Homo sapiens: one gene and its partners. The protein of the gene in region 2 interacts with the protein of the main gene of each other region in a pairwise test. Each region holds a gene or a part of one and is shown on either strand. Other genes may lie near its edges.

The links. The genes of interacting proteins can lie anywhere in the genome.
Region 1: the proteins of CSTF2 (region 2) and PARN interact in binary tests that used the Homo sapiens proteins (3 or more experiments, as listed by UniProt).
Region 3: the proteins of CSTF2 (region 2) and AKAP8L interact in binary tests that used the Homo sapiens proteins (3 or more experiments, as listed by UniProt).

Annotation. Positions count from the first base shown.
Region 1 is NC_000016.10:14,627,261-14,635,209, reverse strand, and holds the start of PARN (poly(A)-specific ribonuclease PARN), read left to right. Parts: upstream 1-4,949; 5' UTR 4,950-5,084; coding exon 5,085-5,103; intron 5,104-5,535; coding exon 5,536-5,613; intron 5,614-6,958; coding exon 6,959-7,038; intron 7,039-7,873; coding exon 7,874-7,941; intron 7,942-7,949. UniProt on the Homo sapiens protein: 3'-exoribonuclease that has a preference for poly(A) tails of mRNAs, thereby efficiently degrading poly(A) tails.
Region 2 is NC_000023.11:100,830,372-100,837,394, reverse strand, and holds part of CSTF2 (cleavage stimulation factor subunit 2), read right to left. Parts: intron 6,588-7,023; coding exon of another isoform or gene 6,528-6,587; intron 6,346-6,527; coding exon of another isoform or gene 6,173-6,345; exon of another isoform or gene 5,887-6,172; intron 5,881-5,886; coding exon 5,739-5,880; intron 4,662-5,738; coding exon 4,486-4,661; intron 4,216-4,485; coding exon 3,923-4,215; intron 57-3,922; coding exon 1-56. UniProt on the Homo sapiens protein: One of the multiple factors required for polyadenylation and 3'-end cleavage of mammalian pre-mRNAs. This subunit is directly involved in the binding to pre-mRNAs.
Region 3 is NC_000019.10:15,380,989-15,388,011, reverse strand, and holds part of AKAP8L (A-kinase anchor protein 8-like), read left to right. Parts: intron 1-7,023. UniProt on the Homo sapiens protein: Could play a role in constitutive transport element (CTE)-mediated gene expression by association with DHX9. Increases CTE-dependent nuclear unspliced mRNA export.

The sequences.
Region 1 (7,949 bases), on a different chromosome or scaffold from region 2:
GCGTCCACCACCATGCCCAGCTAATTTTTGTATTTTTAGTAGAGACAGGGTTTCACCATGTATCCCAAGCTGATCTTGAACACCTGAGCTCAAGCAATCTGCCCGCCTTGGCATCCCAAAGTGCAGGGATTACAGGAGTGAGCCACCGTGCCTGGCCTTGGACATTTTTCCTTATCCTCACATTGTTCCCTTCACCTGTAACACAACTTCACAACATCGCTGGGTCAAAAGTATCCAACTGGAAAGACCCAAATCAACTGTCACTTGAAAGTCTTTAATGACTAACTCCTCAACACCCAAATTAATCTTTCTTGTCTCTGTGCATTAGCATAACTTTTATTTGTGTACGTTTTCTCATCTCCTGGATTATAATTTCCTTAGGCTGGTAGAGTTGAAACAGTATGGTCTTAGGAGTGACACTGATCTGGGTTCCAAATCGCGTCACGATTTATTCTTCCTAAACTTCCTATTTCCCACTGATCCGTCTAGGATAATCATGTCAACTTCGAAGGGCTGTTGGGAGGTTTACTTTAAAAAAATTTTTTTAAGAGACAGCGTCTCCCTATGTTGCCTAGGTTGGTCTGGTCTCCTGGGCTCAAGGGATACTCCCACTTCTGCCTCCCAAACTGCTGGGATTACAGGCGTGAGCTGCGGAGCCCCGCCCTGCTGTGAGGTTTAGATGACAAACTATCTACAGGTACTCAAAGTTTGCTGTGTGGGGCTGATCGGCATTATTAACAGAATTATCAATAGCAGCATTTATTGAGTGATGGCTACCTACTTAGTGGCACTGCCAAACGCTGGAACCAAAAAGCAAACAAAAAGAACTGCCCTGGAGAAATACAATGTCTCCATCAAGTTTATGGATATAGGGAAATGCAGAGCACACCTGTCAGGATACACCCAGGCTGGATGTTGAGAAAACAGCAGCGACAAGAACAAACAAAACAACCCCATCAGCACGTGCAGTCCCTGCCGGCTCGGGGGTGTGTCCTGGGAAGAGAGTAAAGCTCTTTCCTATTGGCGATTTGGAGCATGACATCAAGACCACCCCCCTTGCAAAGGACCGACCAATGGGCTTCGGCGGGGAGGACCCAATGGCGACAGTTGAGGGCTTAACAGCGTCTAGGCTCTCACTCTGTTTTCCGCGGAAGCTGGGATGCTGCCTCCTGCCCCTCCAAAGGTCCCCGTTTAGACACAACCTGACTCTCATCTGTCGCCCCCTCCCGCCGGCTTTTTTAATAAAAGACAATTCTCGGCCGGGCGCGGTGGCTCACGCCTGTAATCTCCCCACTTTGGGAGGCCGAGGCGAGTGGGTCACTTGAGGCCAGGAGTTCGAGAACAGTCTGACCAACATGGTGAAACCCCGTCTCTACTAAAAATACAAAAATCAGCCGGGCGTGGTTACGCGGGCCCGTAATCCCAGCTACTCAGAAGGCTGAGGCAAGAGAATCGCTTGAACCTGGGAGGCGGAGGTTGCAGTGAGCCGAGATTGCTCCACCGCACTCCAGCCTGGGCGGCAGGGCAAGACTCCGTCTCTAAAAAGAAAAAAAAGAAAATTCTCTTTTGCCTAAGTTATTTCCGAGCCGCAAGTCGCAGAATCAGAAGAGCCGAGTTCTTGCCTGGCCCCAGTGTGACTTTGGGATTTCACTTTCTCCCTTCTGCGCTTCGGTCACCCTACTTTAAAGAATGGGCACAATCGCTCCGCCTTAGGCCAGGAACGTGCCTCGACAATTAGACCGTAAACTCAGCGTGGCGACTATCAGAAGCCTCATCAATTCTGGTCCGGCTGTTGCAGGGTGTGGCAAGCGCTCCTGGCGGGCAGGCGCCCCGTGGTTCCCCTCCAAGGTGTTTGGAAGCGACCCCTCCTCCTTCCCGCCCTAGGGAGCCCCAGGAGGGAGTGGCTCTGACCCTGACCCCCGAAAGGACGCAGGCGAGGCCCAGCGACCGGCTGTGCGGACGTGGGGCTCTCGGGAAGGGATAGCGCAGTTGGCCAAGCTGGGGTCCGAACCCCGCGGCCAGGAGTGGGGATGCTCAGGACTCGGGCCTGCGTGAGGAGAGGCCCCGCGCGCCTCCTACGACCCGGCTGGGGAGGCTCCGCAGAAGGGATTCCCGCTCCGTCTTCCACATCACTCCCCGATATCAAGCCCGAGTCGCCCCCTCAGCACCCCCCAGCCGTGTCGCGGCTTACCATTCCACTCGTCCCGGGCCAACCGGGCCATTATTCTCAGCACAGACCCCGCGGGAGCAGAGGAAGAGGGAGAGGCTTCGCTACCGGAAGTAACAAGACAGAGTGGGGGAAGCGTGCCCCGGCCCCGTGACCATAGAGGAGAGGCCGCTCTCCTTTCACAACCCCCCTCAACCCCGCGACCTCCCCGCTGCCTAGAGCGGCCACTCCCAGCCGGAGGAAGTGGGCGCATGCGTAATACCGCCGGTCCCGCCCCTTCCTCTTCACCCAGAGACCGAGTACCCGGGCTCGGCAGTCACAGCCCAAGGGGTGACGGGTGTGTGTCAGTTTCCGCTCCTCCTGGGCGGCTGTTCTTGTATCCGGAGGATACAAGCTTTGCCTAGAAATTAAAATATTACAAGGCCGCACCGTACTCTCTACAGTTATTTTTTGCCTTCACATTTTATGTAGAAAATCACAGGACTATACGTTCAATTTACGGTGTTAAGAATCGGAATTAAATGACTTTTATTTCTATTAAAATATTTTTTTTTTCGTAGAGATGGGGTCTCGCTGCGTTTTCCAGGCTGATCTTGAACATATGGCGTCAAGGGATCCTCCTGCCTCAGCCTTACAAAGTGCTGCGATTACAGGCGTGAGCCACCTCGTACAGCTTGAAATGGTTTTCTTATCACCACGTTTCGCCCCTTCCCAGCGTCTAGGTCACAGCGTCTAGAACTTATGCTGATTATTTGGTTTTGTTTTGTTGTTGTTGTTTGTTTTTGAGACAGAGTCTCACTCTCACCCGCCAGGCTGGCGTACAGTGGCACGATCTTGGCTCACTGCAACCTCCGCCTCCCGGGTTCAAGCGATTATCCCACCTCAGCCTCGTGAATAGTTGGGACTACGGGCGTGCACAACCACGCCTGGCTCATTTTAAAATTTCATTTTATTTTTATGGAGACAGGGTCTCGCTCTTTTCCCCAGGCTGGTCTGGAACTCCTGGGTTCAGGCGATTCTCCTGCCTCAGCCCCCGAAAACGCTGGGATTACAGGTGTGAGTCATGGCGCCAGGCCCCCATTAAACAGTTATTTATACAGATTTATTAATACGCTGCTTCCCAGTTCACATTCATTAGCACCACTGAGCCTCAATACAATCCCAGGAAATTGAGGTTTAGGAAGGTTTAATGCATTCCAGAACTAATAAGTGGCTGAGATAGATTTTGAAAATAGGTCTTCTAATCAACTTTCCTTTTGTTCGTTTGTTTGTTTTGGAGACGGAGTCTCGCTCTGTCGCCCAGGTTGGAGTGCAGTGGCACAATCTTGGCTCACTGCAACCTCCGCCTCCCGGGTTCAAGCAGTTCTCCTGCCTCAGCCTCCCGAGTAGCTGGGACTACAGGGGTGCGCCACCACGCCAGGCTAATTCTTTGTATTTTAGTAGAGATGGGGTTTCACCGTGTTGCCCAGGCTGGTCTCGAGCTCCTGGCCTCAAGCAATCCGCCTGCCTCGGCCTCCCAAAGTGCCAGGATCACAGGCGTGAGCCATCGCATCCGGCACTAACCAACTTTTCATAGTTGGCTTTTGTGAAAGACCAACCTGAATGTATTCATTCAACCCATGCTTATTGAGTGTCTACTACGTGTCAGCCCAGTGCTAGGCATTGGAGAACAGCAACCCCAAACCAACATACAATTCCATTAGGGCCGGGCCTCATATGTTGCACTCGACATAGTATTCCCAGAGGCTAATGCAGTAGCTAAGGGTCTCAGCTTTGCTTTCCGTGATCACCTAAGTAACAACCCCTATTATTCTTTTAATTTAATTTAATTTTTTTTTTGAAAACAAGTCTCGTTCTGTCACCCAGGCTGGAGTGCAGTGGCGTGATCTCGGTTCACAGCAACCTCCGCCTCCCAGGTTCAAGAGATTCTCCTGCCTCAGCTTCCCGAATAGCTGGGATTACAGGCGCGCACCACTGCACCCGGCTAATTTTTTGTATTTTTAATAGAGACAGGGTTTCACCATGTTGGCCAGGCTGCTCTTGAACTTCTGACCTCAGGTAATCCGCCCGCTTCTGCCTCCCAAATCGCTAGGATTACAGGCATGAGTCACCAAGCCCAGCCAATTTTTATATTTTTAGTAGAGACAGGGTTTCACTATGTTGGCCAGGCTGGTCTCGAACTCCTGATCTCGTGATCCGCCCGCCTCGGCCTTCCAAAGTGCTGGGATTACAGGCATAAGCCACCGGGTCCGGCCTAATTTTATTTTTTTAAGAGACAGGTCTCACTATGCTGTCCAGGCTGGTCTCGAACTCTTCAGTTCAACGGATCCTCCCGCCTCGGGTTCCCAAAGTGTTAGGCTTACAGGCGTGAGCCACCGCACCCGGATCCCATTATTCTCTATTACATCGCCCCGCTCTTTTTCTTAATAGCGATTTTCATGTGTTACCAAATGGCAAGTTTCACTCCTGCCTGAATTTCCCCTTACCCCAAGTTTAAGCTACAATGGGGCAGGGAGCACGTCTTCCTGTTCATCACTGTATCTCCACCCCTGTAAGAGTGGCTAGCATATCACAGAAACCCAGTCAGTATTTCCTGGTCGACTGGATGTCGAGACATGCACATTTTTTCTACTGAAGTGAAAGCCCGCACAAATTAGGCCACGCCTTGGGGACTTCGATAGCCACGCCCCTCCCCTGTCCCTATAAGGAGGGAAAGGAGCCCAGCCTTGGCCCCGCCCCCGCCGCCGCGCAGGCGCTGACGCAAGCGCAGCAGGCGCGCGCTGTTTCCGGAAGTCGCGGCCGGCGTCACCGCTGCGGCTGCCTCAGCTACTGCCGCAGTCGCCGCGGAATTCGGCGAGTAGAACCGCTGAGGCGGGCGCGGGCCCGGGTGGGGCCAAGGTTCCGGCCACTCTGCAGAATGGAGATAATCAGGAGCAGTGCGTGTCCGCCGTACACCTCCCCGCCTCCCCACACCCGGCTGCCCCTGGCCTGCTAGGCCGAGACCATGGCCGGCGTGTTTGGCTGGGCCTGGGGCTGAGGCAGCCCCTCAGGGCTTTTCCCTCCTTAAGCCGGTGCGCCTCTTGGGGTCTTTTCCGGCTGCGGACCGTGCACCCTAGGAGCCTTGTACTTACTCCTCCAACCCCGGCACCATCCGGGGCCTTGTCCTTCTCCGGGCCGGGCACCCCCCGGGGCTTGTCCCCCCTGACCCATGCACCCCTCGAGGACTTGATTCCCCTCGCCCCGGTGCACACCTCCGGGACTTTTCCCCTTCCGGCTCTCAGCCTCGGGAGCTCCTCGGCCCTCCTTCCCTCTCCCCTTAGCAGGAATTCAGGCCACTGGTTCTGAGCCTCTTTTCGGTTTCTCCGCAGATTTTAAGAGTAATCTTCACAAAGTGTACCAGGCCATAGAGGAGGCCGACTTCTTCGCCATCGATGGGGAGTTTTCAGGTATCCCTCCCTTGCAAGCTCAGGCTAGCACTTTGCAGTGCATAGCCAAGGCTCCTTCAATCCCCCAGCCCCCAACTTCTTATGCTTGGTGGTGGCCTCTTGCTGTTAGTAGCCTTGGGCGGGTTTCACAGGTCTCAGTGTTACCCTTTAAACGTTTCAAAAGCACGAAAGAAATGAAGATACGCCGTAGGTTTGTGATTGGACTCAGGATCTCAGATAGAGATGATGGTTTTGATGCTGCTTAAAACAGTGCGGCGTGTACATTGCAGAGAGCTTGAGGATTAGGGTCAGACTGTTTTTTTTCTTGATTGTAAAATAGGTATAACATGAAATTTGCCATTTTAAGTGGCTTTACAGTTAAGTGGCATTAAGTACATTCACATTGCTGTGCAAACATCACCATCCATCTCTAGGACTTCTTCATCTTCACAGTCTGAAACTCTTTACACATTAAACTCCCCATTTCTCCTTTCGCCCAGCCTTTAGCAACCGCCATTTGTCTCTGAATTTGACTGCCCTTAACATCTCATATAAGTGGAATCTTACAATATTTGCCCTTTTGTGACCGGCTAGGGTCAGGTTTTTGCAGATAAATGAGATATTTCTTTATGCATTAGTGGACGTGTTCATTGCCTGCCTCAACAGGTGTGTATACAGGAAATACTTCACTGACACTTAAAGTTGCAAATTTTTTTTCCCCTTTTTTAGGGGGAGCAAAGACTAGTTTTTAAATTGCTGATGTCAATATGAACGGTTCACTCCCTTTGATATGGATATCCATTTTTGCTGTCTGATTTTCCATGTTTGAATCATGAAGGAATCCATGCAGGGGTAAATAGTATCCTTGGCTTTAGGTAGTGTCTAGTTGGAATCACTTCCCTAGGAAGCTAAGAGTTTTCACTTAGAGAAATAATTTTCTCTTAATCTTGAAGATACATTCTTTGCATAGATATTAACCACTCCAAACTCTTGACCAAGACTGGAACTCTGGCAATAATATACTTAGGGATTTATTGATGTCTGTTTATACAGGAATCTTTTAAAGCAGCAAAACTTATTCAAGCATAGAGATTGTTTTCTTACATGATTACTGTGTTTTAAGTCATGTTTTAGACGCTGGAACTGCCTATTCTCATGTTGAAACATTCGCATCTCTAAGTTCATTATTAGAGGGTTTAACCTGGTGGCCACTGAAATTAATGCTTATTTTAAAAAAGTAAGTTAGGGAGTGCTTCCAAGTAACCTTAATTCGTGATACGACATTATAGAGGCACTGAATGATTGACTGGCATTTTTACGTTAGTATTTATTAGTAAGCTAAAAATTTTTATTTCTTAAAATCTAGGAATCAGTGATGGACCTTCAGTCTCTGCATTAACAAATGGTTTTGACACTCCAGAAGAGAGGTATCAGAAGCTTAAAAAGGCAAGTGGATGTGCTAGGAAATCTTTTTCTTTCTCATGTTAGTCTTCCTTATGTTAAATGATAAATATTGTTACTAAACTTGTGCATTAAGGTTTTGTAAGTGCAGTATTTTCTCCTCAAACCTAGCCATGAAGTGATTTTTTTTTTTGTTTTGTCTTGTTTTAGAGACAAGGTCTCGCTCTGTCACCCAGGCTGGGGTGCAGTGGCGTGATCACTGCTCTGTGGAGCCTTGAACTCCTGGCTCAACTGATTCTCCTGCCACAGCCTCCCAAGTAGTTGGGACTACAGGCGCAAGCCACTGTGCCCAGCCAATTATTATTATTTTTTTTAATTTTTACATATTCTTTTGTAGAGATCGGTCTCACTTTGTTGACCAGGCTGGTCTCGAACTTCTGGCGTCAAATGATCCTCCTGCTTTAGCCTCCCAAAGTGCTGGGATTACAGGTGTGAGCCACCACACCTGGCCTTAAAGTGTTATTTTAATGATATTTAAAACAGCAAAAATAATTGTTTGCTGGAAAATATTTTGGGGAAAGTTTAGCATTTTCAGTGTTAATTTGATTCATAGGAAATATGAGGCAGTTATTTTAATCATTTGGAAATAGACCTAATATGATTCTTTGGATGATGGATAAATAGGTCCTTAAATGGGAAAAGTATTATGAAATGTATACAAATTAATAATGCTTCTGATTCATATGTGTAATCTGTTCTAATTGGAAGTATTCTGCTGAAGTCTCATTGAGTAATTCAGAAAGCCCACCTGTTTGAGAATGCTATGCTCACATGGAATATGCAGCACTTTTGTGACAGATGTTTTATTTCCCTTTTCCAGCATTCCATGGACTTTTTGCTATTTCAGTTTGGCCTTTGCACTTTTAAGTATGACTACACAGATTCAAAGTAGGTTG
Region 2 (7,023 bases):
TGGCTTCCACCCTGTATACTTGCTCCTTGCATTCCTGTTCCCTGCATGACTGGGACCTATGTGTACAAAGAGAAAAGAGAGATTTTTGGCATTTTTAATGTATAGGTAACCTGAATTCAGTAATAATGTGACAAATTATGATCTCTATACAGATATGAGTAAAAAAAGCAAATCAATGACTCTGAAGATCATTTTCTACTGTTAGCAATAGCAGAAGGCAGGGTTTAGCCAGAGATCAACTAGCAAGTTCGACATACTTGCTTACAACACCTCCAGCATCATCAACAAATATTACACAGCACAACTGGATACCACTGAATTAATCAAAATTCAGCCAAATAAGCACAGTGAAAACTGAGAACACCCTGGAAACTAGTGCTCACTGGAAATACAAATGAAAGCCAACAGAGTCTAGAGAAAATGTATGCTGGTCCACTGGGGAAGTTACATTCACAGGGCCACCCCCTACCCTAGTTCAATCAGATACAGGTAGTTTGTCCCAAAGGGCCCTATCCCACAAGTGAGGCAGAGATGTTCATAATGTCAGAGAGGCAGAAAGGCAATGGGAAGGCCTCCAGGAAAAAGACTGCTATTAGCCCAACATTTGCTGTTTATAGCTTTCCATAGAGAACATATGGCAGATGCTTTCTGCTAAATGTAGACCAAAAAATATGACTGACTGGAGTGAAAAAACCAAGTACAGTGATATCATACTTACTGGTACTTAAGATCTTCAATGAGTTCAACCCTTTGCAAGACTACCAGAACCCAAGGAAAAGACCTCTTGAGTACCAAATCTAACTGTTAGAATGTCCCTATACAAGCATTATGTTCACACTCAGGCATTCACCCAGAGCTTAGGTACTCTCTTAATAAACACATATTGTTAACAAACTTGTTACCTGCTTACCCAGCAGATTAGAAGCAGCAAAACATAAAAGAAATACGGATAAATAACTGTTAGGAGCAGATACCACTTCAGTAATATGAAGAGCCAGGTGACGGCCTGACAGTGAAGGAGACCAGAAACCAAACAGGAGATAACTATGTTTTATATTACGGTATAGACAATAATGAATCTATTCAATGATGACCTTGAGTAGTCAAAACTGATTAAACTATTTTTTTGTATCCTGTTCAAGAAAGGAAATATCAAATACTTTTTATAATTTTTTATTAAAAAAGTTAAAAAACTTGGTAGAATAGTTCTATTATCTGGAACATTCACTTACATGCATTAACTCATTTCCCAAAGACAATGGATAGATGAAACATTAGTACAGATTTGTATAGACTGCTAGAATATTATCACTGTTCTGTTCATTATCAATACTGAAACCAGAGACAAGTTTCCAGAGACCAGTCTGAACATTAACGAGCTATTATGGGTCTGAAACACCTATGAGTATAATCTTTTTTTTTAAAATTTTTTATTTCCATAGGTTATTGGGGAACAGGTGGTGTTTGGTCACATGAGTTTATAGCAGCACAATTCGGAATTGAGTATAATCTTTTTGAAGCTTTAATCTGAGGTACTGTAATTGTGATCTAACCACTCAATAACGGCCATTTTAAGTTTCTAGGTGTGCTTGTTCTAGGCAGACAAGTACTAGCAAAAGTGACCATACATCTTGGTTTCCCTAAGATAGTCCCAGTTTATGTTTTTGCCTCCAAGTAAAGTAACAGCACTTTCTTTCATGTTCTCCTTTAGATGATAAATTATATAATCACCCTAGTAATAATAAGCCTTTTGCCCACAAGTTTCTAACTAAGTGGACTAGAGTTAATTTTAAAATCTAATTTAAAAGTATGAATTAAGGACATGTTGTTAAGTTAAAAAAAAAAAAGGTATAGAACAGTGAAAGGGGAAAAATAATATATATTCATGTTTTCCAGAAAGTAACATGAAAAATCTAATAAAAGTGATTATCTACAGGACCTAGAGGGCCACAGGGGAGACAAGCATAGGAGAGGAAGCAAGGTTCCTTTTAGTTTAAGATGTGGTCTCACTATCTTGTGTAGGCGGGCCTCCAACTCCTGGGCTCTACTGATCCTCCTGCCTTAGCCTCCAGAGTAGCTGGGACTACAGGATTCTACCCTGGCTTTTTTTTTTTTTTTAAAGATGGGAGTCTAATATGCTGCCCAGGCTGGAGTGCAGTGGCTAGTCACAGGTGCGATCAGAATGCACCACAGCCTCAAGTTCCTAGACTTAAATGGTCTTCCTGCCCCAGCCTCCAGAGTGCTGGCACTACAGGTGCATGTCACCATGCCTGGCTTGAAGTTCTTAATACATATATCTTTTATAGATGAACGAATATATATATTTATAAGTTAATATATTAATTTAAAATTTTTTTAAAGGTTTGAAGATAAAATTTGTATTTTCTCTTGCCTCAGATCTAATTGGCTTTATCGAATCTACTAATAAAAATGGTATAAACCTAGTATTAGGGTAATAAGTTCAAGTACCAGCAGAGAGAAAGGAGCAAAATATTATCCAGAAATGTTCTTCCAACCCTTACTTGCAATGTCTTGCATCATAGAACTACCAGTAAAATTATGTAAGCGCATTATGTAGTTATTTGTTTGTTATCTGTCTTCCCAACTAGAATGTAAGCCCATGGGGGAAGGGGCTTTGTTCTGTTCACACTGCAGTATCCCCCGTACCTAGATCTATGTTTGGTACATAGTAGGTGCTCAATAAATATTTGCTGAGTGACAGAATGAATGCATAAAAACCATTTCTGTTACTAGGCTACTGACCATAGAGAGTACAATAAAAATCAAGGCCCACAAACACTTCAAACACAATAGAGAACAGTTTTATTCTACACATAGCAAAAAAACCCTCTATTTGTATTTCATATTACAGAGGAGGGGGTAGACACATATCCACACATATACACACACACAAATGTGCAGATAACAGGACAGAGTAGTAAAGTGGAAAAAGTAGTGGCTTCTGTTCCTTGCTCTGCCACTTTTTAGTCATGTGAATTTGGTCAAGTCACCTGAATTCTTGGGCCTTAATTTCCAAATCTATAAACTGAGGGAATTAGATGATTGATGTATTCCATTCCAGCTCTGCCATTATCTTTCTCTCTCTCATACACACAGACATGGGGAGGAAGACACATAAAAAAAGAAGAGAGAAGTACGCAGAGGAAGGGGGGAAAAGGAAGGTGGAGCAGTTAGAGGGAAATGAAGGTGCCAGCATATAAAAACTCACGGAAGAAACACACATACCACCTCTCCACAACCAAGTCGAGATGAAGAGGGAGCATGTACACACAGGCAGAGAGATCCAAATAAAAGAGAGGAGACAAGACTTCGGTTCCACACCTTTTAAGGTGATTATTAATAAACTGCCTTTCACATTCCACTGTTCACTTAGGCTATGTGATGACAATAAATTAACACAGGTCTCTCTAAACCTAAGATTATCTAAATGGCCACTAACAGCTCTTCATATACTCTAACCCAGTGGTTCCCAGTCAGGGTTCACATTAGAATCATTTGGGGGAAGTTTTTCAAACTATCCATGCTCAGATCCTACTAATAAGAGATTCTGAGTTATACCTCGGATGAGATCCGGGCAAGTATATCTTGGAAAAAACCGTGTACATGATGTTGGTTTGTACCCCAATCAAGACTACTTTCTAACCCCTAAATTTTCAGGGGCTCTGCTCCAAATGAATAGCTATTTATTGTGGGATAAGGTTGTTTTTTTTTGAACTACAATCCTGATAGCCAGAAAATCACCACCCTAAGGGACAGAGAAGCTACAGGGAGATCCAAGTCTTCCCTTTCTAACAAGCTAAGAAACAGCCCAAGTCAGAAGGCAGTAATAATTAGGCTCAATAATCAATTCCTGAATAGATCAAGATTTCACTTGGATGCCAGAAGTCAGTGTTACACATACCTGTCTGGATCCCTGGGGGACAACCGCCCCCATGTTAATTGGACTGGGACCCTGCATTCCACTAGGTATAGGTCCTCTGGGGCCAGGCACTGGGCCTCTGGTATCCATGCCTCTGGCCTCCATCCCTCGGACTTCCATTGCACGGGCCTCCATCGCTCGGGCCTCCATTGCACGAGCTTCCATCGCACGGGCCTCCATTGCACGGGCCTCTAATCCTCTGGCATCTAACCCTCTTGCCTCCATGGCTCGGGCCTCCATCCCTCGTGCATCTATTCCTCGGGGATCCCTTCCACCTATAAAGAAAAATGTAACAAAACCATTATGTAGCTACTTGCATGTACTGCAAGAATGATGAACAATCCAAGAAAGATAGAAATCTCTTCTAGTCACATTTGTCCCCTCAGCTATTAACATATGAGACTATTGTCTCCTCCCCAGTTTCTCAGATTTGTGGATAAACCTTAAAGATGCTTGCAAACCTACTGTTCCAGCATTCTTTATCCCAGATTAGAGCCTAAGACAGTTGAGTTCATTATGGCATTTGCAATGTGATCTCCCCTTACCTCTGCCATCCAAGGGTGGACCCCTCTGATCTAGCATGGGTCCTCTTGGTTCTGCCATTAGAGGTCTGGGCTCGGGTAATGGCCCTCCCCTCAGTTCATGTGGGGGTGGTCCTCGGCTCTCATGGCCAGGGACATGGTGCATGGGTGGACCCTGATGAGGTGGTCCCAAGTAACCTCTGGAGATGGAGAAAAACGTTGTATTTTAAAATAGAACAAAACAACAACAAAGTACCAACCAGATCAGTAAGTAAACATCCAACAAAGAGCTGATGTAGTCTATGAATACTAACAAGAAAATAACACCAAATAGATGGAAGAAAAGCTACAGAGATATAAATCCATGTATTCTAGAATTTCGTTATTTGGTTCATAATTAGGGAGGAATCAACGAATATTCATTATATGTATGAGTTTGCAGAACAATGCATAAGAACATGAGCTCTGGATTCAGACTGTATGGGTTCAAATCTAGGCTCTATCACTTATTAGCTGTGTGATATTGGACACATTATTTAACTTTTCCACACATCAGTTTCACGTGTAAAATGGGACTAATAATGGTATCCATCTCACAGGATCTTGTGGATTTAATAAGATGATCTAAGTAAAGTACTCAGAGCAGAGTCAGAGGCATGATCCCCATTAATGTCAATTATTATTACTATCATTATTTTATTTATTTATTTACTTTTGAAATGGAGTTTCACTCTTGTTGCCCAGGCTGGAGTGCAGTGGCATGACCTCGGCTCACTGCAACCTCCACCTCCTGGGTTCAAGCGATTCTCCTGCCTCAGCCTCCCCAGTAGCTGTAATTATAGGCGCCCGCCACCACGCCCGGCTAATTTTTCTATTTTTAGTAGAGATGGGATTTCACCATGTAGGCCAGGCAGGTCTCGAACTCCTGACCTCAAGTGATCCACCCACCTTGGCCTCCCAAAGTACTGGGATTATAGGCGTCAGCCACTGCACCCGGCCTATTATTGCTATTATTAATATTTCCACTACTATAAATTTCCCTGTTCAAGTATGTATACTAAAATTTCCAATTTCTAAAAATATAATAGCTCAAAATGACATACTCAAGTACATAGTTCTGCCTTAGGAGAAGTGCTTACCCTTGGACAGTGGCCATGAATATTGATCTACCTTTTGAAGTAGGCAAACAGGTACAACTGGTACAGAAAGATTTTGTTCTCAGGGAAGAAGGGACAATTCTGATTTCTTCAACTGTTTCCTTCTATGTTAGTGCTTACCTAGGCTCTACCTCTCCAGTTACAGAAAGTAAAGTGCCTCCCCGTGGATCATTCGGAGCATCTCCTAACAAGCCTCGAGGGGTTGGGACATTCGCAGGCAAGGATCCCCGCTGCATAGCTGCTCTGGGGTCTTGCATCGGCACTGACAGGGAAACAAACGGGGAGTTACTGCTGTGAAAGACACATAAGCAAACAAGAAATGACTCTATATACCACTGACAACATAATTCAGACACCTTAGAGTGGGTGAAACCTCACCACAGCAGAATCCTCTTGCAGCTCAAGAACAGAAGCAGGGTGTAGGCAGAATCTGTGCCATGTCAGAGGTATGGATGGAATTATATAAAGAGCAAACTGGGGAGCAACCTGCCAAGGACTAGCACTGCGACCTGGAGAAACTTATGCTCCTGGTTTTCCTTCTAATCAATCTTAGTTCAAGGACCAGAGTCACAAAACAGAGGTAGAGTCTTGGCATATGTGAACACTGCCATGGCTCTGCAAGAACCCGCTGTCTCCTTACAGACTGCTATTCCATCCAAGCCTCCTGACACCAGTAGGGAGGGAGTACAGCCTCGGACAGATGCCCATATCATCCATGTTCTCTGCCCTGTGTGAAGAGGTCAATCTTAGGCTTGTGGCCTCAACAGGAAAAAATTAAAAAAACAAAAACCCAAAAACACTACCCTTTTGGGTTCTGAACGCGAGGATGACTGCCACGCAGCTCTTTTCCTCTCAACGTCCCACCCTGAACACCACAAGCAAAAGGAAACCCACAGATACAATGGGTACCTTGAACTCGCTCAATTGATGCAGGCCCGGCGGGTCCCACGGGCGAGTGCTGTAGGGTTCCTAGGTAAGCAGTAAGTTCAAAAGGAGAAAGAGCAGACACTTAAAATAGCTTGCATACACACGCAGAAACACACACACATGGAGATTGAGATTTACATATATAAGTTAAAAAGCCAAGAGTTCATCGGCTTGCTCCAGGCTACAAAATCTCCCTAAACTACACTAGCTCCTTTGGGTCTCTGAAATAGTTCCATTTTGACCAGATAGCTTTTGAAAGGGAATCCCATGGGGGCACTGGTTTGATCTAGGTGGGAATAACCTGACATTTTCGATTTTCACCTCTGCTACTAGTTTTCCGTTAGGTCTCCTTATGAAATCATTAGGAAAAAAATATATAAAAAGGATAGTTTTGAATCTTCTAGTTATGCAAAGAACATAAATGTAGTTTCAGAAGCAAAACATAAAAGAAACTGCACTGAATCTGGAAGGCAAGATT
Region 3 (7,023 bases), on a different chromosome or scaffold from region 2:
TTTGGGCTCCTTTATAGGGATTTTTTTCCCCTCCCCTCCCCGCCCCCTCTCCCAGACAAGAGTCTTGCTCTGTTGCCCAGGCTGGAATGCAGTGGCGCGATCTTGGCTTGCTGCAACCTCCACCTCTCAGGTTCAAGCAATTCTCCTGCCTCAGCCTCCCGAGTAGCTGGGATTACAGGCATGTGCTACCACGCCCGGCTAATTTTTGTATTGTTAGTAGAGACGGGGTTTCACCATGTTGGCCAGGCTGGTCTCGAACTCTTGATCTTATGAGCCACCCACCTCAGCCTCACAAGGTGCTGGGATTACAGGCGTCAGCCACTATGCCAGGCCCAAGAGGGATGGTTTTTGAGGTGGTTGTTTGAGATTTATTCTGAACCCAGGGAGTCTGTTCTTAGCTATTTCACTGGTCCTTGTCCTCTTTGGTAACCTAGTTAGCCTATGGGTTAGCTAATATCACTGTCAAATCTACCGGTCCTTCTTTTTTATGGCTGTGTGGTGGGGGAAAAAAAAAAGGACAAAGCTATCAGTGTTTAACTCCAATAAATATTCAGAAAGAAAAAAAAAAGCTATCAATGTCCTTTTAATTTTTTTCCTCCCTAGTCTCCATTGTTTTTGAGAGAGGCCCTAGTCTTGCACTTCCCAACACTCTTGCCAGTGAAGTCAGTCAGTTCCTTTGAGATTGGGAGTTTACTGATTTAAGGCCGTGCTCTCACTGTGGGCAGAATCTCTGAGCCAAGGCTCTGGGGATGGAGACAATGGAGTACCTCTCTCTGAGTGACTCTGCCACTTTAGGAGAGACATGGGAGGAGGTACAGTAGGCTGTAGCCTCCGGTCTTGGTTTGCCTTTCCTGGCATGGGACCTCTGCTTTATGAACAAGCCATGGGTATGTGAGCCCTTATATTCTTAGTGTGCCATGCCCAGGGTCAAGCCTCCATTCCACGTGCGTGTGGCTGGGTAGAAGATAGGAACCGTTCTCTCTCAGCTATGCTTGTCTAGAACTTAGCCTCATCAGCAGGTAGCTGGGGGCGGGATGAGAGATACTGACATCCGGCTGGGTACAGTGGCTCACGCCTGTAATCCCAGCACTTTGGGAGGCCAAGGTGGGCAGATCACCTGAGGTCAGGAGTTCAAGACCAGCCTGGACAACATCGTGAAACCCCATCTTTACTAAAAATACAAAAATTAGCCGGGCTTGGTGGCGGGCACTTGTAATCCCAGCTACTCGGAAGGCTGAGGCAGGAGAATTGTTTGAACCCGGGAAGTAGAGGTTGCAGTGAGCCGATATCACGCCATTGCACTCCAGCCTGGGCAACCAAGAGTGAAACTCCAACTCAGAAAAATAGATGCTGACATTCTGTTCCTCCTGGGAAGATATCATACCCCTTAACTGAGATGATCTGGGTAGATGCGGGCAGACCTGTCTTCTTGGCTGTACTGTCTGGAGTGGAGTTTCCATCACACTAAGCTGGGGGAGGCAGGGATGCAATAGGTTGTGTTTCAGACATCACAACTCTTCATGGAACTGAGTTTTAGTAGCTTTTCCTCATTAAATCTTTCTCATAGGGCTGTATGTCCTTAGGAACATTTTCAGAGACTTTAAATGGTTGTTTTTTAATACTTTTCATCAGTTTCACTAGGGAGTGTTCCAGGGAACGCCTCAGACTGCTATGCTAGAGTCTGTCCTCTCAATATTTAGGAAGCTTCTTAAACCTTAATTCCAAAATTCTGATAAAGATGATACCAAAATGAAACTGTAGATTAGTTTACTATTATTAAAGATATGAAAGTGGGCTGGATTGGCCGGGCGCGGTGGCTCATGCCTGTAATCCCAGCACTTTGGGAGGCCGAGGCAGGCGGATCACGAGGTCAGGAGATCAAGACCATCCTGGCTAACACGGTGAAACCCCATCTCTACTAAAAATACAAAAAATTAGCCGGGCGTAGTGACGGGCGCCTGTAGTCCCAGCTACTCGAGAGGCTGAGGCAGGAGAATGGTGTGAACCCAGGAGGCGGAGGTTGCAGTGAGCCGAGATCGCGCCACTGCACTCCAGCCTGGGCAACAGAGTGAGACTCCTCAAAAAAAAAAAAAGAAAAAAAAGAAAGAAAGTTGGCTGGATATAGTGGCTTATACCTGTAATCCCAGCACTTGGGGAGACTGAGGTGGGAGGATCATTTGAGCCCAGGAGTTCAAGACCAGCCTGGGCAATATAGTGAGACACTGTGTCTATAAAATTAAAAATAAAAAAATTAGCCAGGTACTGGGGCCTGTGGTCCCAGCTACTTGGGAGGCTGAGGTGGGAGGATCACCTGAGCCCAGGAGGTTGAGGCTGCAATGAGCTGTGATCGTGCCACTGCATTCCAGCCGGGGCAACAGAGCAAGACTCTGTCTCAAAAAAATAAATAAAATGAAGTGCTAAATAAAATATTAGTAACTATCAATCTAGTAGTGATCCCTATGTATGATACATTATAAGTAAGGTTTGTTTCTGGAATGGAGGGATGGTTCCCTAAGAAATCTAGCAACAGTTGCCGGGCGCGGTGGCTCATGCCTGTAATCCCAGCACTTTGGGAGGCCGAGGTGGGTGGATCACGAGGTCAGGAGATCGAGACCATCCTGGCTAACACGGTGAAACCCCATCTCTACTAAAAATACAAAAAATTAGCCAGACGTGGTGGCGGGCGCCTGTAGTCCCAGCTACTCGGGAGGCTGAGGCAAGAGAATGGCATGAAAGGCCGGGCGCGGTGGCTCACGCCTGTAGTCCCAGCACTTTGGGAGGCCGAGGCGGGCGGATCACGAGGTCAGGAGATCGAGACCATCCCGGCTAAAACGGTGAAACCCCGTCTCTACTAAAAACACAAAAAATTAGCCGGGCGTGGTGGTGGGCGCCTGTAGTCCCAGCTACTTGGGAGGCTGAGGCAGGAGAATGGCGTGAACTCGGGAGGCGGAGCTTGCAGTGAGCCGAGATCCCGCCACTGCACTCCAGCCTGGGCAACAGAGCGAGACTCCGTCTCAAAAAAAAAAAAAAAGAGAATGGCATGAACCTGGGAGGCGGAGCTCGCAGTGAGCTGATATCGCGCCACTGCACTCCAGCCTGGGCGACAAAGCGAGACTCCGTCTCAAAAACAAAAACAAAAAATCTAGCAATATTATTGGTATAATGCAAACTCTCTTTATGTGCAAATAATGTGATTATGCTCTTAGAAAAGCTGAATGATCCCAGCAAAATGTTCTTAGAATTAATAGAATTTGGTAAGGGGATGGGATTCAAAATAGCGTACAAAAAGTCGTAGTGTTTCTCTATTCTAGTATTAACCAGTTAGAAATTTAAATGGAAAAAAAACTACTTAAAATAACCACACAATGTATGAAATAGCTAAGAATACAGATTTAAGAAGAAAGACTTGAGGGCCAGGCATGGTGGCTCATGCCTGTAATCCCAGCACTTTGGGGAGGCTGAGGCGGGTGGATTGCCTGAGGTCAGGAGTTTGAGACCAGCCTGGCCAACATAATGAAACCCTGTCTCTACTAAAATACAAAAAATTAGCTGGGCGTGGTGGTGGGCGCCTGTAATCTCAGCTACTCAGGGGGCTGAGGCAGGAGAATCGCTTGAACCTGGGAGGCGGAGGTTGCAGTGAGCCAAGATCGCGCCATTGCACTCCAGCCTGGGCAACAAGAGCAAAACTCCGTCTCAAAAAAAAAAAAAACAGGGAGGGAAGAAGAAAGGCTTGAGATCTTTTAAGAACTGCAAATACTCCAAGGATATGAAATAAGACCTTAGCCGGGCACGGTGGCTCACGCCTATAATCCCAGCACTTTGGGAGGCGGAGGCAGGTGAATCACTAGGTCAGGAGTTCAAGACCAGCCTGGCCAAGATGGTGAAACCCTGTCTCTACTAAAAATACAAAAAATTAGCCGGGTGGGGTGGTGGGTGCCTATAATCTCAGCTACTTGGGAGGCTGAAGCAGAGAATTGCTTGAACCTTGGAGGTGGAGGTTGCAGTGAGCTGAGATCATGCCACTGCATTTCAGCCTGAGCAACAGAGCAAGACTCCATCTCAAAAAAAAAAAAAAAAAAAAAAAGAAATAGACCTTAATGAATGGAGGAATGTTCTGTGTTCTTAAATAGGCAATTTAATAGTGAAACAAAACAAAAACCAGTTCTCTCCAAATTAATATAGACAGCACATTTCTAGTCAAAAATATCAGTCGGGGAGTAGGACTGAATGAAATGAAATTATTTTAAAGTTTTACATTGTAAAATTCAGTCTAACAATAGCTGAGAGATTGATTTCAGAAATACTAAAACTTACTACAAAGCTGCTGCAATTAAAAAACAAAAAAAGTGATAATTAGCACAGTAATGAAACAGTGGAACCAGAATAGAGAGTCTAGCAAAAGATCTCAGTATATTTCAGACTTAGTAATTTGTTAAAGTTAGTACAGATATTTTATCTGAAACCTTAGGGCCAGAAGCCTCAGAATTAATTTTTCAGCTTCAGAAAACCAATATGCAAGGCTGGGGGCAGTGGCTCACACCTGCAATCCCAGCACTTTGGGAGGCTTAGGTGGGATTGCTTGAGCCCAGGAGTTCCTGACCATAGTGAGATCTCGTCTCTACAAAAAATAAAAAATTAGCCAAGCATGGTGGTGAGTGCCTATAGTCCCAGCTACTCAAGAGGCTAGCATGGGAAGATCACTTGAGCCCAGGAGTTTGAGGCTGCAGTGAGCCGTGATCACACAATGGCAGTGCAGCCTGGGCAACAGAGTGAGACTCCTATCTCTAAAATAAAATAAAAAGAAAGACAATATGGTATTAGCACTAACCTCTCCAACAGGATCTGGGGAAAGCGCCTTGTAGTTGAGTCACAAATAATTCTTCACATGACTTACATATAAATGAAAAATGTAATGTCAGTTCACATTTAGCCACCAAATGAATTTTGGGGGAAGACTTGTTTTCTAGAGCCTTTTGGATTTCCAGTTTATAGATAAGGGATGGTAGACCTATATGCCAATTTGGTAGGGAAATAAATGGTGTGTTTTGTACATTTCTGGAAAAGAAAATTTTGGACCCTCTACCTCATAACATATACAGATTGAGTTCATCCGTCATCTGAAAATCCGAAATGCTCCGAAATCCAAAACCTTTTTCTTTAAGAAAAAAGAATTGAGTCTTGCCATGTTGTGCAGGATGGAGTGCAGTGGCTGGTCGCAAGTGAAATCATTGCACACTATAGCCTTGAACTCCTGAACTTGAGCAATCCTCCTGCATCAGCCTCATGAGAGTAGCTGAGACTACAGGCACGAGACACTGTGCCCAGTAAAATCTGACTTTTTCAGCACAGACATGACAAAGTAAATGCTCATTGAAGCATTTCAGATTTTGGGTTTTTGGAGTAGGGATGCTCAACTGGTAAGTATAATGCAAATCAAAATCTGAAAGACTTCTGGTCATAAGCACTTTGAATAAGGGATACTCAATCTGTATCAAATTCTAGAAAATTTGGCTGGGCGTGGTGGCTCACGCCTGTAATCACAGCACTTTGGGAAGCCGAGATGGGTGGAGGTCCTGAGCTCAGGAGCTCAAGACCAGTCTGGGCAACATAGGAAAACCCTGTATCTACTAAAAATACAAAAAAGTAGCTGGGTGTGGTGGTGCGTGCCCGTAGTCCTAGCTACTCAGGAGGCTGAGGCATGAGAATTGCCTAAACCTGGGAGGCGGAGGTTGCAGTGAACTGAGAGCCCCTGCACTCCAGCCTGGGCGACAGAGCGAGACTGTCTTAAAAAAAAAAAAAAAAAATTTAAATGTGAAAAATGAAAACCAAGATCAGAAAATAGTTAGAAAATTATAAACTGTGGGCGGGTGTTCCAGTGTGCTTACCAGAGCACTCACTCGCCGGTGGGCAGGGAAATGCCGTGGGAGGCAGCAGCACAGATTCTTCTGTCTTTTATCCACAGCAAAAATACCCAACAGTGACAACATCCAGTGCTGATGGGCAGGCAGGAGGACCAGGTCATTGTTTTAACACAGGTGGAAGAAGCATGACTTGCAAATGTTCTGCAGTTAATTGGGCACTATCACTTTGAAACCAAACCTGGTTAGAATGAAAAGCACCAGCATGGAAGTGTACAAGTTTATTCTAGTGTTGCTGGGTTATTGTGGAGAAGATCTGGAAGCAACATAAATGTGCCTCACTTGGGAGAATTTATGGTGTGGTTATCTGGGCATCTAGAACCAGGAGGATAAACTGTTGGCAAGTGAGAGTCACTGGGGGAACGGTCTATAGTAGTATCCTAATTGTGTATCTTTAGTTTATTGTGAGCATGTATGATGTCTGTTAATATTTTCCTCCAGTAGTAGAGAAAACGTGCTAAGGAAAAAAAAAAATGAAGATGGAGAGAGTAGAAACAGCAAGTGAGAAGGCTTTCTGAAACATGTAAATGGAGTGGGAAGGACTCAATGGGCTCTCCCACCCCACCAAAAATATCCTTCTTTTACCTTATGGTTTTTATAATGATCAAAGTGAGATTTGCCTGTACTCCCACCATGAGATGGCCCAGCATATTGATGGAAATCCTTCCAGACAAAATGGCTCTGGCATGCTCTGCAGACAGTACTATATTATACACCTTTCTTATGCCAGTGCAGAGATGAGCCCGATTTGAAGGGCTGCATGATGTTCTTTTGAATGTACGATTTATTTAACCTCTTCTGCACTGAGGAACGTTTAGGTGTTTTCCCATTTTTCACCACTACAATCAGTGTGCACGCATGTTTCCAGTTCTTAAATTTAGGATACGTTCTGGGAAGGGATTAATGAGACAGATTTTTACTTTTCATACATTGTGTCAAACTGCTTTCCAAAAAATACGGAAACAGTTGATCCTCCCACCAGCAGAGAAGACTCTCTTCACCCTTGCATGACTGGGAATAATTCTTCATTCTTGGAATTCTGTGGGTTAAAAAAGACGTTTCATTAAATATCTGTTCCTGTTTTTATATCTTCCCCGTTGGCCCC